Linked DNA regions of Homo sapiens: region 2 is linked to region 1. Evidence: fine-mapped expression QTL. A gene starts in region 1. The other region holds a variant in brackets. All regions are shown on one strand. Distances are between the middles of the regions. Region 1 holds the start of SEMA5B (semaphorin 5B). Region 2 overlaps SEMA5B (semaphorin 5B).

Evidence for each region.
Region 2: its variant is fine-mapped to the expression of SEMA5B in gastroesophageal junction (GTEx, PIP above 0.99).

Annotation. Positions count from the first base shown.
Region 1 is chr3:123,026,380-123,029,279 of GRCh38, reverse strand. It overlaps SEMA5B (semaphorin 5B), which reads left to right and starts at 1,517. Exons shown (of 23, transcript NM_001031702.4): 1 at 1,517-1,816. RefSeq lists an enhancer at 406-913.
Region 2 is chr3:122,964,164-122,967,063 of GRCh38, reverse strand. All of the region lies in intron 1 of SEMA5B (semaphorin 5B), which reads left to right. Among named protein-coding and RNA genes, the nearest start is that of SEMA5B, 62 kb to the left of the region's middle. The variant T/C (reference allele first, on the strand shown) is at 1,446.

The DNA of each region.
Region 1 (2,900 bases):
TTTCTTTTCTTCTCTGCATCTCTGCCTTTGTGTCCAGAGCGTGTTTTCCCTTTGCAAGTTTCTCTCCATTCTGCACATTATGAGTTTCAGCATTTCTGTTGCCCTAGAAAGTCTATCTTTGAGATCTTGCACTGTTTCTCTTTTTACAGTGTCTCATAAACTCCCTTCTTGGATTCAGAACCACCCTTTCTTTCCCATTATCCTGTCAAACTGCTTCTTGCCATGGTCCAGGGGTAGGAGGATGGCAGGCAGGAGGTGCTTCTCTGGGGCTCTTAGTGTCTCAATTCTTCTGCTTTATCTGGGTTTTCCTTTACCCAGAATTTTATTATGTAAAATGCTTCACTCAGACTTTGTTCTAATTATCCAATTTTTGGCATACTCTAGAAAGTCTTTTGATATTTTCCTTCCTCCAACTTATCTATTTTTATTTCATAGTTCTCTTTGGTTATCTCTTAGAATCACACTTTCCTGGTTTTAATTTTTCAAATCCTTTGTCTTTCTCACTCGTTCTTAGGTCACCTTTTTTTACATTTTCAAATATATTTTTTGTTCAGCAGAGGGCTCCCTTCCCATCCCTCTTGCAGCCCGGGCAGCTAGGATTTGAAGCTTGCCCCTTGAATCTTTCTCTCCCGCCTTCTAGCCATCAGAAACACTAGATCACTTAAACTTGTAAACAATTCGGCCTCGCTCCTTGTGATTGCGCTAAACCTTCCGTCCTCAGCTGAGAACGCTCCACCACCTCCCCGGATCGCTCATCTCTTGGCTGCCCTCCCACTGTTCCTGATGTTATTTTACTCCCCGTATCCCCTACTCGTTCTTCACAATTCTGTAGGGTGCGTATTACTAACCCCAGTTTACAGCTGAGGAAACTGAGGCTTGGAGAGGTTCGCTCGGTATCGTACAGTTTGCAAGGTTAACCCTAATCCGGCCAGTTCTGGCTTTCCAGCCCAGCCCAGCAGCCTAGCCTCCCTCTCTGCCGCTGCAGGTTATAACGGCTCTCCCCCGTTTTACACGAGGTCCCTTCCCCTTCAAATCCACAGGCAGGAAGATCGTTCCGAACTGACGGGGCTGGGGAATGTGGGAGTCCGGAGTGGGGTTTGGGGGAGCTTCCTCAGGCCCTGAGTGTTGGGGTGGGCAGGCCGCGCCGATGGCCCTCGGGGATGTCACATTCGAGATGGGGTGACCGAGAACGGCAAGGCGGGATGTGGCAAACGGCGGCAAGTGCTCGGAGTCCTAGGTCTTGCCGCCGGAATGCCGGCCGGGGAAGGGGCTTCGGCCCACCGGGCTGGTCACCACACTCGGCAGGCCCGGGGCGGGAGTCGGCCGAGCAGCCGCGGGATGCAGGGCGCCCCCTCGCGCTCCTCCGCGCGCCTCGAGGCTGGCGGGTGCAGCGCCCGCCGCGGCAGGTCTGCTCCAGCCCCCTCCTCTTTTTCGCTCCCGCTCCCCTCCTTCTCTCCCTTTGCTTGCAACTCCTCCCCCACCGCCCCCTCCCTCCTTCTGCTCCCGCGGTCTCCTCCTCCCTGCTCTCTCCGAGCGCCGGGTCGGGAGCTAGTTGGAGCGCGGGGGTTGGTGCCAGAGCCCAGCTCCGCCGAGCCGGGCGGGTCGGCAGCGCATCCAGCGGCTGCTGGGAGCCCGAGCGCAGCGGGCGCGGGCCCGGGTGGGGACTGCACCGGAGCGCTGAGAGCTGGAGGCCGTTCCTGCGCGGCCGCCCCATTCCCAGACCGGCCGCCAGCCCATCTGGTTAGCTCCCGCCGCTCCGCGCCGCCCGGGAGTCGGGAGCCGCGGGGAACCGGGCACCTGCACCCGCCTCTGGGAGGTGAGTCCCGGGAGCCCCGGGCGCTTCCCCTGCGCGGGTTGGGGCTGCAACTTGCAAACTTCAGCAACTCGGGTGGGTATCGGGGTAGAGAGGTAGGGGTCCGGGCTCTGGCAAGTTGAAGCCAGGTAGGTGAGGCTGCGGGCGGGAGGACAGGGGGTCCCCTGGCTTCCGCGCCTCCCGCTGCCACCTCGGCTTGAGAGCCCTCATCGCTGCTGCGTTCCCGCCGCCAGCCAGCTTGGGTCCGGGTTGCACTGGGCCCTGCCAGGGCTGTGGTCGGCGCATCTGGGCTGCAGCGGCGATGGGGACCCGGGACCCAGGCCTGGAGAAGGAGACGGACGAGTGAGGCTGAGGGACGGAGGGACAGAGGTGCGGAGATGGAGGCTCAGAGAGGGCCGGCTAGTAAACAGCACTGAGGGAGAGTGCGGGCGGCGAGGCGCGTGGGAACGCGTGGCCCGCCCAGAGTGTGAAATCTCCCGCTCAGGGACGTCCCTGCTCCACCGCCGCCGCCTGCGGAGCCGCCGCCCGGATTCTTCCCAGACCCGCCTCCAGGACACTCTTGCCCTGACCAGGCCTGCGGAGCGTGAACTCTGCCCACCAGGCTCCAGGGGCAGTGGCTCAGGGCCCCGCACTCCCGGCTGGGAGGGTGGAGAGGGGTGCGGCAGCTGGAAGCAGGGACGCGAGCGGCGATTTCCCGATTTATGTTTCTCATGGTAATTTGTCTTTGTGGTTGGGGCTGCCCATTCACTTTCCGCTCACGTCCTGCGGGAGATCCAGCGAGGAGGGAGGGAGCGGGGGGCGCTCGGGCACAGAGAGGGATGCAGACGGGAGAGGGGATCGGGGACCCGCGCGGGGCGGGAGCCAAGAGGGAAGTGGTCGCCGGACCGGCGGAGGAAGAAGGCGAGGCTCGAGAAAACCCGGCCCAACGGAGCCGACTCCTTTGCCCACCGCAAACTTTAAACAAGGAGGAGGATCACCTGCAGCGCCGTTCTGGCCCCCTCCTCCCCGCCCCCGCCCCCCACCTCGAGCCCAGTCTTTGGGTAGTTCCGACTGCCCGCCGCGCCAGGCGGGAGTGGGCCGAGAGTCT
Region 2 (2,900 bases), 62 kb after region 1:
AAAAATACAAAATTAACCGGATGTGGTGGCGGGCGCCTGCAATCCCAGCTACTCAGGAGGCTGAGGCAGGAGAATCGCTTGAACCCAGGAGGCAGAGGTTGTGTTGAGCCAAGATAGCACCATTGCATTCCAGCCTGGGCCACAAGAGTGAAACTCCATCTCTAATAATAATAATAATAATAATAATAATAATAATAATAGTAATAGGCCGGGTGTGGTGGCTCACGCCTGTAATTCCAGCACTTTGGGAGGCCGAGGCGGGCAGATCACGAGGTCAGGAGATCGAAACCATCCTGGCTAACATGGTGAAACCCCGTCTCTACTAAAAATGCAAACAAAAAATTAGCTGGGCGCGGTGGCGGGGGCCTGTAGTCCCAGCTACTTGGGAGGCTGAGGCAGGAGAATGGCGTGAACCCAGGAGGCGGAGCTTGCAGTGAGCTGAGATCACGCCACTGCACTCCAGCCTGGGTGATAGAGCGAGACTCCGTCTCAAAAAATAATAATAATAATAATAATAATAATAATAAACATTCTTACAATGAATTTCCATGCTGAGTTGGCACTCCCATCACACAAAACTGTTGCTGAGAGTGGTTGTTTCACTTAAGGTGACCCAGCTAGTCAATGTAGTCCATGTCTGATAGTACAATTTCAGGCAGTACTACAGACTTCTGGGACTATTCTTTTTAGGAGGGGCTCTTCTCTGAGCAACTCTTTAAGTCACAAACCTCTTTGCACCCTCCAAAGCATCAACTTCAAATGAAAACATTTATCAACTGTCTTCAGTGTTCAAGACACTGGTAGGTCCTGGAGGCTGAAAAAGGAAGTGGTATCTGCCTCCCAGGGTTTGCAGTCAAACCAAGAGCCATATTTGGAGCAAATGGGGAGGTTTGATTAAGTGCCAAATAAGAGTGTGGGGGGCATCATGGGAAGTGGGGAGGAGGAGGGAACTTCTAAAGGGGAGAGGTGTTCCAGCATGGCCTTCTGAGAAGGGTCTGGAATCAGAGAGATTCAAGTTAGCTGCTGGAGGGTCCCTTCCTTCCAGCTGGTTGTCGCTGGGCCACCTGTGCCAAGAAGTGGCACATCCAGCCATTCATGTATCCACACAAACCTGTGTCGGCTGAGCTCCCACTGTCTGGCAGACTCTGAGAGGACTCCCTCAGAGCTCCCATCTCATGTAGCCATGGCCCACTCTACTATCTGCTTTCCAGTTCTTAATCCTGGGTCCTGGGCCATCCAGATTGGGAGGCGCTCTGAGCAGCATGTCTGCTCTTCACTTTACCCCACTCTAATTAAATAAGTGGTTACTTACTTATCTCCCTAGAGAGAAGAGGTTTTAGGGTAGGGAGTGTATCACTTAGGAATGCTTTTGGATGCATGTAACAGAAAACACCATCTACAATAACTTTAAACAGAGAGATTCATTTAATCACTTCACAAGAGGT[T/C]TCGGAAGTGGCAGCAGCTGCTGGTCTTTGCTCACTGGCTCAACAGCATCAAGGTATTCTGTTGCCCTCTTGGCTTGTCTCTTGTCTTATGGTTAAAACAGGGCTGCTATAGCTCAAGACATCACATTCAAATGCAAGGGAGGAAGGTGGAGAAAGGAAAGGGATTGGTGCCCACTGAGTCTATCTCTTGTAAGGAAGACAAATGTCTTCCCAGAGCCTGTAGCAGACTTCTGCTTATTTCTCCTTGGTCAGACCTGGGCACCTGTAACTTCAAAAGAGGCTGAAGAAGCAAGTGTCTCACCTGAGGCTGGGAACATTGCCACTCTGTGCAATGTGGGAGTTTATTATCGAAGACAATGGGGGAATGAATTTCAGGGAGGCAATCATGTTAGCCACAAAGAGAGCTGGGGACTTCCTTGTATAATCCGAGGCACTGAGCTCCTGCCCCCAGCTCCTGCCCAAGAAACTTCTGGACAGTCCCTACCACTGAAACGTCAAGCTGCTTCTTCCTAGTCTGTCCTTAGATGAACCTTGAGAACATTATGCTAATTGAAGTAAGCCAGTCACAAAGCTACCCTACTGTCCTCTTCCCTCCAGCACATGGAATCAAACACCAGCCTCCTCACCCTCCCTCCCTGACTCAGCCAGGAGGCTGTTCTCCTGGTTTCTGCTCAGTTTCACCCACTGTGGAGCCCCTCTGGGAAAGTTAAAGGGAGGGAGAATGAAAGAGGAGGGAGAGTGTTAATTAAACACCAGATGTTTAACTCTGTTAATTAATGGCTCTGTCACCCTGAGTGGCAGCAGCCTTCTCTTCTCTGTCTCCTTCACCCTCACTATTCTCTTTTTCTCTGGAGGGCCTTGAGTTTGAAGCTAAAGAACTCAACATTTGTTCAATGGGGCCTTGAGACCAGCAAAGGGTAAAGGGAGAAAGCTGGCTAGGGCAACCCAGGAAGAGCGGGTTCCCTTGTCCAGGAGGGAGGCATGGACATTTTGGCAGTAGGAATGGAAAGAAGGAACAGTGGGAGAGAGAGACCAAAGCCCAGAGGTCACAGAGAGACATGTTTTGTTTGGTGCACATAGGGATTTCAAAAAATGCAAGTGGTTGCAAGCATTTAAACATGGGAAAATTTTCACATAAATCTAGATGTGCAGATCTTCTTTAAAAATAGGCAGGTCTGGGCCTGTGTCCTCACACAGCAACAGTTAGCTGGTGGAAAGTAGAGCTGCGTAGCTGGTAGCTGTCCTACCCAGAAGAAACGTGTGTCCTCCCATCCTCCTCTGCCCCCACCCCACATACTTGGCTCATATGTCACATGTCACCTGCCATCCCATCTGGGGTTGGGATCCACTGAGGTACAGGTGCCAGGACTCGACAATGGGTTGCCTATAGGAGAAGACAGAGAGGAGAGCCTGAGAATGTTGAAACGTGAGTCAGGATATTTGGGGAAATTGTAG